Homo sapiens: one gene and its partners. The protein of the gene in region 3 purifies or fractionates together with the protein of the main gene of each other region. This does not show direct contact. Each region holds a gene or a part of one and is shown on either strand. Other genes may lie near its edges. The genes, in order: ERMP1, SIRPB1 and TYROBP.

What was found.
Region 1: the proteins of TYROBP (region 3) and ERMP1 purify together in Homo sapiens (co-immunoprecipitation; 2 studies listed by BioGRID and IntAct, with this or other methods). This does not show direct contact.
Region 2: the proteins of TYROBP (region 3) and SIRPB1 purify together in Homo sapiens (affinity purification with western blotting; 2 studies listed by BioGRID). This does not show direct contact.

What each region holds. Positions count from the first base shown.
Region 1 is NC_000009.12:5,808,996-5,812,644, forward strand, and holds part of ERMP1 (endoplasmic reticulum metallopeptidase 1), read right to left. Parts: intron 3,223-3,649; coding exon 3,130-3,222; intron 2,329-3,129; coding exon 2,116-2,328; intron 1,237-2,115; coding exon 1,016-1,236; intron 1-1,015. UniProt on the Homo sapiens protein: Within the ovary, required for the organization of somatic cells and oocytes into discrete follicular structures.
Region 2 is NC_000020.11:1,564,374-1,568,022, reverse strand, and holds part of SIRPB1 (signal-regulatory protein beta-1 isoform 1 precursor), read left to right. Parts: intron 1-1,755; coding exon 1,756-1,868; 3' UTR 1,869-1,870; intron 1,871-2,525; 3' UTR 2,526-3,649. UniProt on the Homo sapiens protein: Immunoglobulin-like cell surface receptor involved in the negative regulation of receptor tyrosine kinase-coupled signaling processes.
Region 3 is NC_000019.10:35,906,145-35,909,893, forward strand, and holds the start of TYROBP (TYRO protein tyrosine kinase-binding protein isoform 1 precursor), read right to left. Parts: upstream 2,152-3,749; 5' UTR 2,085-2,151; coding exon 2,024-2,084; intron 1,619-2,023; coding exon 1,586-1,618; intron 1,437-1,585; coding exon 1,302-1,436; intron 1,121-1,301; coding exon 1,074-1,120; intron 1-1,073. UniProt on the Homo sapiens protein: Adapter protein which non-covalently associates with activating receptors found on the surface of a variety of immune cells to mediate signaling and cell activation following ligand binding by the receptors.

The DNA of each region.
Region 1 (3,649 bases), on a different chromosome or scaffold from region 3:
GGCATGAGCCACAGCACCCAGCCCATAGCCCTAATTTCTTTTTTTTGAGACAGAATCTCGCTGTCGCCCCAGCTGGAGTGCAGTGGCTCAATCTCAGCTCACTGCAGGCTCCGCCTCCCGGGTTCACGCCATTCTCCTGCCTCAGCCTCCCGAGCAGCTGGGACTACAGGCGCCGCCACCTCGCCCGGCTAATTTTTTGTATTTTTAGTAGAGACGGGGTTTCACCGTGTTAGCCAGGATGGTCTCGATCTCCTGACCTTGTGATCCGCCCACCTCAGCCTCCCAAAGTGCTGGGATTACAGGCGTGAGCCACCGCGCCCGGCCAGCCCTAATTTCTAATTTTATTTTTGCCAAACAAATTTATGCATTTGAAACCATAATAATATAACAATATTCTCAGTATAAATCATTTGGAACCCTATTTCCCTTCCCTCTGTTTTCCTTAGCAATGTGTCTTTTAACTCCAATGACATACATGCATGCAGAATCTGAATCAACAATATACAGTTAAAAAGAAAAAACAGTGAGGGAAAAACTGAAAAAACTTTAAGTACAACATTCTTTTAGGCAACAAATACTTGCTGTGTGTTAATGCTGTGTGTCAGACACTACCTAAGCACAGAGGATACAGAAATAAATAAAACAATCCCTATCCTCAAGGAGCTTACACTCCAATGGAGAACAGATATTCAAATAACATAAATAAGTGGGTGAGCCCAGGACATATTTACAAACACTGCAGCAAATTCAGTAGAAGGCTGTGCTAACAAGCCTTCCAGTCACCACCACCCTAACACTGTTAACAGCCCGGCTTTATAACCTCATTTGAATTTTGTGACATTACCCTCAGAATAAGAAATCTTTCAGAAAATTAACACAGTGTAGGTGCGTTTTCCATAACCATGCTGAACAATTTTTTAGCACTCAAAAGGCCAAATACAATGAATCACACTTAAGTTCATCTTCAGTCCCTGGAGGCAACAGAAAGAAATCAACAAATATACCAAACACTTACCATGTAATAAAATCTTTTCGCAAGAGTATGTATAAGTATTATTTTGGCTACAGTTGCAGTTCCATACAGACAAACGGAGACATAGAAGTGGTTATACCATGAGAGAGACTGTCCAATAAGAGAGATGAACACTGCTATAATGAGAACGGTAACAAGGCTAGTGAACCAGCTGATCAAAGTGATGCCAAGTCCACACAAGAAGTCCTTCTTGTAGTTACCAGCTAATGAAGAGAAAACAAAAAGTTGAAATCACCATCTTCATCAAATCAGTTATATAACCAGTCAGTAGAGCTAAATGGGCAAACATTAAAACAAAAAACTCCCCACTGTACTTGAAAAGTATGAAAATGTCCTAGTGTTGAGATTGGCCAAACACAAGAACAAGGGAGGTATCAAATAATAATATTCAGGTAACATTTATTAAGAGTCTCTAGATACTAAACACTCAAAAAGATAAATCTTCTAGGAATAGTTCAGGTACATTCCTTATGAAGGAAGAGGATAGTCTTAATCTTCTTCACTTTTGGTATGCTTTGTGTATCAAAATATTAGCAAGAATGGAAGGCAAAGTTCCATATAAAATGTTGTTAAAATAAGGTAACATAAGAAGATAAGGAGTGTGGGGAAAATAAGCGTTGATAAAGAATTATTTAAACTGCTGCTAAATATTTTATCTCGTAACAGCACACAACAACTTAGACTCTGAAACATTTCAAGCAGAAATATTTCAAATAAAAGAAACAGTTTAACCACAAGCAGTTCATTCATACTTCGTGACACTGGTCCATACTAGCTATTGGTCTGTAGTGTGGACTTTTTAATGGGACTTTTCATTAGAAGTCAATCTGTACAAACCATTTTTCAATAGTTTCTATGTGGTACTTTTATGGAGTGCCTAAATATATAAAAATTGACTGCTTCACCAAGACTAAAAGTAAAATAAGCATATTAATTTAATATTTAAAAATTTCTTACAATATAAAGCAAACATTGTCTTAAGATTTTTAGCTTTCTGGGAAGATATAAACAAACTGACTGAAAAACTTCAAGCACATTCTACAGCAATGCCAGTATTTGTAGTTTTAGAGGAAAATACTTACTCTTATGTTTGGGCTGCAAAAATTTTTTGCCCAGGTACAAAACAACACCCATTACCACCATGTAGTTTATGATTGAGCCAATACGAGAGGGGTAGGCAATGACAAACAGGCCCAGCACATCAAAGAAGACCATGTTTCCATGTCGATACTTAGAAGCAGCAGCCAGCATATCAGATGTAGCTAGATGCTTAAGAACTGCTAAAATGTTGTCACCTATTAGTAAAAACAAAAAAAAAAAGAAAGAAAAGGAAAAAGATAAAAAGGCTGAATAAACTATTTGTGATTTACACATACCACTATTTAAAGCAGAAATAAACCATATACTGTTTGAATGAAGAAATGGTTAGAAAGAATGTGAACAGAAATCGCTTTCTACCATCCTACTGCTCTCCCTCACTTTTTTTACTAAATTTCTCAAATAAGGTCCATCCCCTGCCTTTCTCCATTTCCTCTCCACTCAGACGCTCAGCCAACTGGCCTGTATCTTTTCCCTTCTATTAGAACTATTCTCTGTGATCAATTGTACCTTCATTGTTGACAAATCCAATGGCTGTTTCTTGGTACCCATTCATTTAATAATATATATTAACTGTACTAGACACTCTTCTAGATATCAGAAATTTAGTGGTGAACCAAGAGACAAAGGCCTTTCACGAAGCTCAGAGATGCTGAACAAGCTGTCACACATGTGTTAAAAATTGAGGAGAGCTAGCAGAGTTCCACAGGAAAACATCATGGGAGACTAACAGAGCTACATTCTTACCACTCAGCAATCCTCCCAACCCTGGGCCAACTCCTTTTTCATTTCCTCACAATGAATATTCCTGACCTTAATTGCTACACTAGACTACAAGACTAAAATTCAAGATCTCATCTCTCCAACTCCAAAGCCCTAGCTCATTCACATTGCATACTGCCTCTCTAATGCACAGGCCACAGAATATTTACAAGTTTATGTATCATCCCTAACATTCCATCTTAGTGTATATCAAAAGTCTAAATTGGAATACCAACCTGCTCTCTGAATGGAATCTGTTAGAATTCTGTCCGCTGTGTCATACTTGGTGTGATAAATGTATCCATTCTCAATAAAAGCTAAGTCTATTCCTAAAACATATATATAGAAAAAAAAAAGTCATTTTGCTTTAAAGATCAACCTTGCTTTCGACCTATTTCTTTAATAAATTCCTAAAAGACAAAATGTCAAAGCAGTGGCACGATTGCTTTGTCACATTTACAAACGACTGATATAAATTCTCTTCCAAATTCTTACACAGTCTATAGCTTTGGTACATAATTCGATACATAATGATTGAAGAAGTATATTACTCCACAGGTAGGCATTACAAGTCACACAGCAAGGATAGGAATATTGAGTTTGGGAGGTCATGAAAATTTTGCCACCTACATTCTTGCCAGGCCAGAGCCAAATTTTAACTTCAAATAAGTTGTACATACAAGTTGCCAAGGGAGTTGGCAAACCAAGACAACAACGAAAGACCCCTGAAGGATCTATTACCATCTTTTGGGAATG
Region 2 (3,649 bases), on a different chromosome or scaffold from region 3:
GGGCCCTATCCCAGCATAGCAGCCATTGAAACTGAGATTCATGCTCCGCTGTGATTCTGCTACTCTTCTATGATGCCCAGGACCCAATTCTCTATTCCTTCTGCCCTGTGGCTCCAAGAAATAAGAATCTGCAGTGCTGCCAAGAAGTCCTCTGGCTTCCAGCTGAACTTTAACTCATGATGAATCACTCTTAGTTTCTCATTGCCTTCCTCCCAAGAGTTCATGCCCAGCAACAGCTAACACCTTAGTTCTTATAACGACCATTTCCCAATCTGTTTTCAAAAGGCTAATGGCAAGGAATTTCCTTCCTGTGGTAACACTATCCCAGTTTAGTGCCAGTGAAAGTGTTATCAATCGCAACACAACAGCAAGTCACGGCTTCTCCAGTCCCATTCACCACCAGCCCTGGGGTCCTCATTGCTAGCTGATGAGTAATCAGATTCCCAACTTATATTTTAGAGTCTTCTTTCCAGACCACTTCCCAAGGACAGTTTCTCTGGGAGGCCACCTGAGGATGCATAAAGCAATGCAGGAGGCATCCTAGAGTGCTGTCAGGGTCAACATGCCTCAGGAATGAGGAGGCAGGAGTGTAGGAGGAGGGAGGTGCTGAGCCACAGTGCAGGCAGTACAAAGATGCAGCTGCTCTTGCAGAGAGGCAAAAGGCCGGAGGGTCCTGTAGATTTTTTTCAAATTGAGGGGAAGGGCTGGCCCTTCATATTCCCAATGCAGTCTATCTCTCATGTGGGCTGCCCCTTAGAAGGAATAAACTTGGGCAGTGCAGCTCTCCTCAAAGGAGAGAAAGCCCCAGAGAGCCACCCATCTGAGAACTGCCGGCCTGCAACACTCCAACACTCCAGCGGCTATAGATGCTGAGGTCTCCATTCCTTCCTTAAGGACCCACCAGCACCATTTTATTTTAAAAAAAATTTTTTTTAATACCTTTGTTACTTTTAACATCCAAAACCCCTTATTTAAAAAATGCAAACAGTCCCAACATGAGCTTCCGTAGATCTGACTCTCTGTGTCCAACAGAAAGATTTCAGATGACATCTGCACTGGGGTTGAGGTAGGAGAGATGATGTCTGAGGCCCTTCCAAGCCCGAGGCACATTCCCTGACTCACCAGGGAATTTTCCAGCCAGCAGGTTTAATTGGGTCTTGTCCCTGGAGGGCTCCCTGAGATCATGAGAATATGGGGTCCTCTCCCTGCCCCTGGGGCTAAGAAGGGCAGCATGCAACTCTCTCACTCTGAATCCATCCTCACACCACCTGCCCACCCTTTACTAATCATTCTCATGATCCTGGAGTGTTGGACTTGTCTTGGACTCAGGAGTCACCCTTGGGGACATAATGATGGGCTTCCCTAGGTTTGGATCCTACTAATCTCCTGACACTCCCTAAACTCTCTGGCCTCAGTTTCCCCATCAGAATGGAATAATAATCCCTGCCCCATGGGCGTGTGAGGATCAAGTGAGGAACCCAGTTGCCACATATATGAATACCTGAGCACACACTCTCTCCACCTTTTCCCTCCAGGAGGATAAACTGGCAGCCTGGGACAGGGTGAGTGAGAATGAGGAGCCACTTTCCCTGGCCTTTGCTTTCGGCTGGAGTCAGGAAAGCCAGAGCAGGATGCAAGTTCAAAAGCTTCAGAGGATTGATGGGCCCAGGTAGCCTCAGATGGGGTAAGTGGAGGCCCCTGGGATGAGCTCCCAGGTGGCCCCTCTCATGGCTCCTCCTCTTCCCTGATTTCCAGAAGCAGCGCTGGCTCCTACTGCTCCACTCCTCGTAGCTCTCCTCCTGGGCCCCAAGCTGCTACTGGTGGTTGGTGTCTCTGCCATCTACATCTGCTGGAAACAGAAGGCCTGACTGTAAGTTTAGGAGAGGGAGGACTGACCAAGGGCTCCTCCAGAAAGGCAAGGCCAGCAGGAGGGCCCAGCTCACATGCCATGCAGCTTCAGGGTCAGTGGAGTTTACAGAAGGTGACAGGGCTCCCTCAGGATACTCAGGAGTCTCAGGGAACCCTGTATGGGGCTCCCAACCCCCAGGGAGTGTGCAGGAGTTGGGATGGTCAAGGGTATTACAGGAGGTGGGATGCTTCAAGGGGGTTCAAAGTTGTCCCCAGTGGCCTAGGAGTCCCATGGAAAAGGTGGACAGAGGGGTCTAAGTGAGGGCCAACTGAGTGGGTGGTCCCTTGGAGGCCACTGCTGGGACTCCATGGGTTCAAAGTAATCCCCACCGTAGTGTTGAGAATTCCCAGATAGGCTGCTCTGAGGGCTGTTCCTGCTCTGACCTTCTGTGTGCTTGAGTGGAAAGCGGGGAAGAGGGAGCATCAGGACTTGGAAGAAGTGCTGAGCTGGCAGAGTCCTATCTCAGGTCTGCCTGTCCACCCATAACAGGCATCCCAAGAGGAGACCAGCACTAGGGACATATCAGGCTCTCAGGAAACATTTCTTAAATGATGAGCAGATGAATGAATGTGGATGTGTTTTCCAACAGCTCCTTCCTTCCTTCCCTGCCATGTAGGACCCTCAGTCTCTGCTGCCTCCTCCTTTCTTGAGAAGCTCAGCCTGAGAGAAGGAGCTGGCGAGAACCTTCCCCACACTCAGCTCCAAACGCCTCCTCTCCCAGGTCATCTGCCTGCCCACACGCTCCTGTTCCACCTTCACAAGACCATGATGCCCCAAAGCAGTGTCTCTATTCACGGTCCTGAGCAGGGGCCATGGGATTGGGCTCTGGGCACTGACTCATGGCACCTCCCTAGAAGGTGAGAAACACTCCAAATCTAAACACACCAGGACTTCTCCCATCCGTCGCCTTGGGACTGGCCATAAACCACAGACTCTCTCCAGGCTCTCAAGAGTTATCCTGTCTTCTGGATTCCTGCCTACCCCAACTCCCCCAGCCTTGTTGAGGTTCTCTACTGCCTCCTGAATACACATGAACCCCTATACCAATTTTAAGAAAAAAATGATTCTCTTTCCTCTTTGTCCAAGCATCCTATCCCTCAAACCCAAAAAGAAAGAAGCTCTCCCTTCTCTCTCTGTGATGGAGACAGTATTTCTTCTAGTATCCTGCAGCCTTCCCAGTCCTGCTGCTTGTGGTAGAAATGCTGCCACAGCCCAACATTGAGGAGCCCTCGATGACTGCCCTTTACAACTCATATTCAGTTCTGCCTCCAAAATGCATGTGTCCACTTACATGAGATGGTAAATGTTTAACAATGGACTTTCTGAAAGGGAAAAACCAAAAGCTGTTTTGCAGTGCTTGCCAATTTCTCTAGTGTAATAACTCCCAACCTGACCAATTTCACACTGCCAACAGTTAAACAACCAGATTGCAAGATTCCTGAAATTTAACAATTGGTTTTCAGGGCCCAGTCCAAGCCTGCTGCTGGAAACCTCAGAGTTAAATCCCTATTCTCCACACCTCTCACCTCCACCACCCCTCCCTGTCCCAGCCAGCATCATCTCTTTGGGGACCACTCCTCTGGCTTTCATTTTTCAGCCACAGTGATTCTTTGGAAAAGTCAAATCATATCACTTCTCTGCTTCTTCCCCAACACAGCTGCATGGCTCCCGCTCTCCCTCCTTCAAGTCTCTGCTCAATGTCACTTCATTAAAGGCACCTTCTATAAACTACCTTGTATA
Region 3 (3,749 bases):
TCACTCTGTCGCCCAGGCTCACTGCAACCTCCGCCCCCTGGGTTCAAGCGATTCTCTTGCCTCAGCCTCCTGAGAAGCTGGAATTACAGGCGCATGACACCATGCCCAGCTAATTTTTGTATTTTTAGTAGAGATGGGGTTTCACCATCCTGGCCTGGCTGGTCTTGAACTCCTGACCTCGTGATCCACCCACCTTGGCCTCCCAAAGTGCTGGGATTACAGGTGTGTGCCACCATGCCTGGCCAAAAAAAAATTTTTTTTAATTATAAAGAACATTTACACTGCTCTCAGATTATATGCACAATTTTGTATTTTTTGTGTAGATTTTTCTGGGAGTCTAGATTTTCTTAGTTTCTCAAAGGGATGAAGGGTCCTCAAACCCAAAAAAGAGATTCTAGGACTCCTCTCTTTAGAGTTACCAAGGTAGGGCTGAATGACATTCTCTGCCCTACTGAGAGCGTCTCCCAGAAATCAGTCGTCCTAGGGCTGGGTTTCTTCCAGAAAATTCCTGGCCTGACTTCTGGCAAGGCCTGTGTTTACACTTACAAAGGCAAAGCCACCCTTTTTTTTTTCTTTTTAACTCTTCACGCTTTTTTTTTTTTGACAGAGTTTTCCTCTTGTTGCCCAGGCTGGAGTGCAATTGCGTGATCTTGGCTCACTGCAACCTCCGCCTCCTGGGTCAAAGGATTCTCCTGCCTCAGCCTCCCAAGTAGCTGGGATTACAGGCATGCGTTACCACGCCCAGCTAATTTTGTATTTTTAGTAGAGACAGGGTTTCACCATGTTGGTCTCGAACTCCTGACCTCAAGTGATCCACCCGCCTCTGTCTCCCAAAGTGCTGGGATTACAGGTTTGAGTCACCGTGCCCAGCCCCTCTTCACACATTTTAAGCTGACCATAAGCTTGTGGTTGATCATTCGGCCCAGTTTTGGACAGATGTCCCATGTGCCTTCAAGGTTTGGGGGTGCTTTAGGCAGAGTGGCTTTGAGGTCCCTCTGATGGCATGAAGGAGTATCTGGGGCAGATATCCCTGGCAGGAGTGAAATGTGAGGAGGACAGTCTGGTTTTCTCACCTGATAAGGCGACTCGGTCTCAGTGATACGCTGTTTCCGGGTCGCTGCTGGAGGTGAGGGGTGTTGTGGGGTGCAGAGACAGGCAGAGTGGTGAGTTGAGGGTGTTTTGTCATTCCAAATCAGCACCTCCATTACCATCCCTTTGGATGTTTGAGATCTGGGAGTTTACCCAGCCCCCCACCCCCATCTAGGCAAGTCCTCAGGATGTCCCCTGCTAGCCCCACTCACCCTCCGCAGCCCCTCGCCCCCGAGGGACCAGCCGGCCCAGGAAGTACACGGCCAGGGCAATGAGCACTGTCAGCACCAGGTCTCCCATCACGATCCCTGCCAGCACGCCCGGGCTCACCGTAGAGCAACTGCAATCTGCAGCACAGGGGTCAGGGGAGGTCAGTGTGTGCTGGGAACTGTGGGGAGGGGGGTCAGCGGCAGGGAGGTTTGGAAAGGGTGTGGGAGAGACGGAGACAGGGAGGTCTCTGGGAGGTAGAGAGAGGGACTGCTGGGTCTAGGCCTACCGCTCTGGGCCTGGGCCTGGACAGGACGGAGACCTGAGGAGGAAAAAGAAGGTAAACTGAGGCACAGAGTTATGACGGGGGTGGGGGAGGCAAGTTTAGAAGCCAGGGAAGGTGGATCCTGACAGCCAAGAGGTTAGCAAGGGGGAGAGCGTGTCTGGCGGGACTCAGGGGGCTGGCGTCTGGGCCACCGGACTATGTGCGTTACTTCTGCACAACTTGTCCTGTGGCAACACACTTAGATGTCTCTTCTCCCCTGCTTGTAGCGGACGACAAAACTTGGGGGCTTGGGCTCTGGGAGAAACCCACAGGCTTTGGGAGGTTGGGGACCTGCTCCCATCCCAACACCCACTTTTGGTTCTCTCGTTCCACCCCACTCCCTGCCCTGCCCCAAGCTGAGCCCAGGGACCCGGGAGGCAGCCACGGAAGCCCCTAACTCACCACTTACAGCCAGCAGGAGAGGCAGGAGCAGGAGCCTGCTGCAGGGTTCAAGTCCCCCCATGAAGCCGGATGCTGCTGGACACCACAGTGTAAGGGCCGGTGGGATGTGGCGCAGCGTCCAGGCAAGTGAAGGAGGAAGTCTGAGGCGGGTGGTGGCAGAAGGGAGGAGGAGACAGGGGAGGAGAGACAGAAACAAAACCCAAGAAAGAATCAGGCCCAGACACCCAGGGGCCATGCCACAGGCCCCCAGCAACTAGACGTGAAGGGCAAAGGGTACGTGAAGCACAAACTTCACCTCCGTCCCCAGTCAGGGGTCAGACATCGTTTTAACAGGAGGGTCAGTGTCATGACCTTCCTCTGGCTGATTGAAACCAGCTCTGCCTCTTCCTGGCTGGTCAACCTTGAGTGCAATGGCACGGTCTCGGCTCACTGCAACCTCTGCCTCCCGGGTTCAAGTGATTCTCCTGCCTCAGCCTCCCAAGTAGCTGGGATTATAGGCGCCTGCCACCATGCCCGGCTAATTTTTTGTATTTTTTTTTCTTTTTTTTTTAGTAGAGACAGGGTTTCACCATGTTGGCCAGCTGGTCTCAAACTCCTGACCTCAGGTGATCCACCCACCTTGGCCTCCCGAAGTGCTAGGATTGCAAGTGTGAGCCACCGCACCCAGCTCCAACCTCAGTTTCTTCATCTGTAAAATTGGGAGTAAAATGGGACCTACTTTTTAGAGTTGTGGGGATTAAATGAATTAAAGTTCCTAGACCAGGGTCTGACCCTTGTCAGCTTTTTAAAAGCATCAGCTATGATGATGATTATTTAATCATCAGAAACTTGTGCTGTTTAAAGGATATTAAAAGAGCCAGCAGCATGTGGGCACTAATGACATGCAGGCACTCTGTCCCAAGCGTTAAATCATTCAGTCCCCGCAATGCCCTTCTAGGGCACATGCTCTTATCATCCCCATTGTTCAGAGAGGTAGAGACGCTTGCCTAAGGCTGCACAGCAAATCAAGGTGGAAATGGAACCCAAGACCCAAAATCAGGTTTTTGACTAGGGAAGAGTCAGGGGGAAAAACAAAGATGAAAGATGGGGAAGGAGAAAACAGCGGCAAAGCTGAGAAAGGTGAGAGTAAGGCAGTGGCACAGACACAGAGGCACGGCTGGCGGCTTGGGGAGAGGCAGGTGGCTGGCTCTCCTGCTGAATGAGGAAGTGGCTGGGAGCAAGGCCCAAGGGAGGCCACCCCAAGGAGACGGGGACTTCTAGCCCCCAGCTGGAGCCTGGGGCTGGGGAAGGAGGAACCTGAGGTTAGGGTGCTGGAGGATGAGACAGCTGCAGGAAGCCCCCCTCCCCCATCCACACGTCACACCCACCGCTCCTTGGGCCTGGGCTTAGGAGAAAAAAGGGGAAACTGGATTCTGGTCACAGGGCAGATGCCCAGTGGCCTGTGGGGGAAGGGAGGAGAGGAGATTTGGAGCCTGGAGGAGGGTCAGGTCCCAGCTCAGCCCACGGTCACCACTGTTCAGGCCTGGCTGAGTCCCCTCCCTTAAAAACCCAAGCCTCTCCCATTGTGTCTAGAGCGAGCATGGAGGGAACAGACCCTGTAGGTCCTCCCGGGCACACCAGGCCACCCAATGTGTTGGAGCAGAGTGGGCGAGGGGGCAGTCAGAGACCAGAGCAGGGCTCTGAGCCAGGAGGGCCCTGACCTGACTCAGGGGTTCACAGGTTCCCT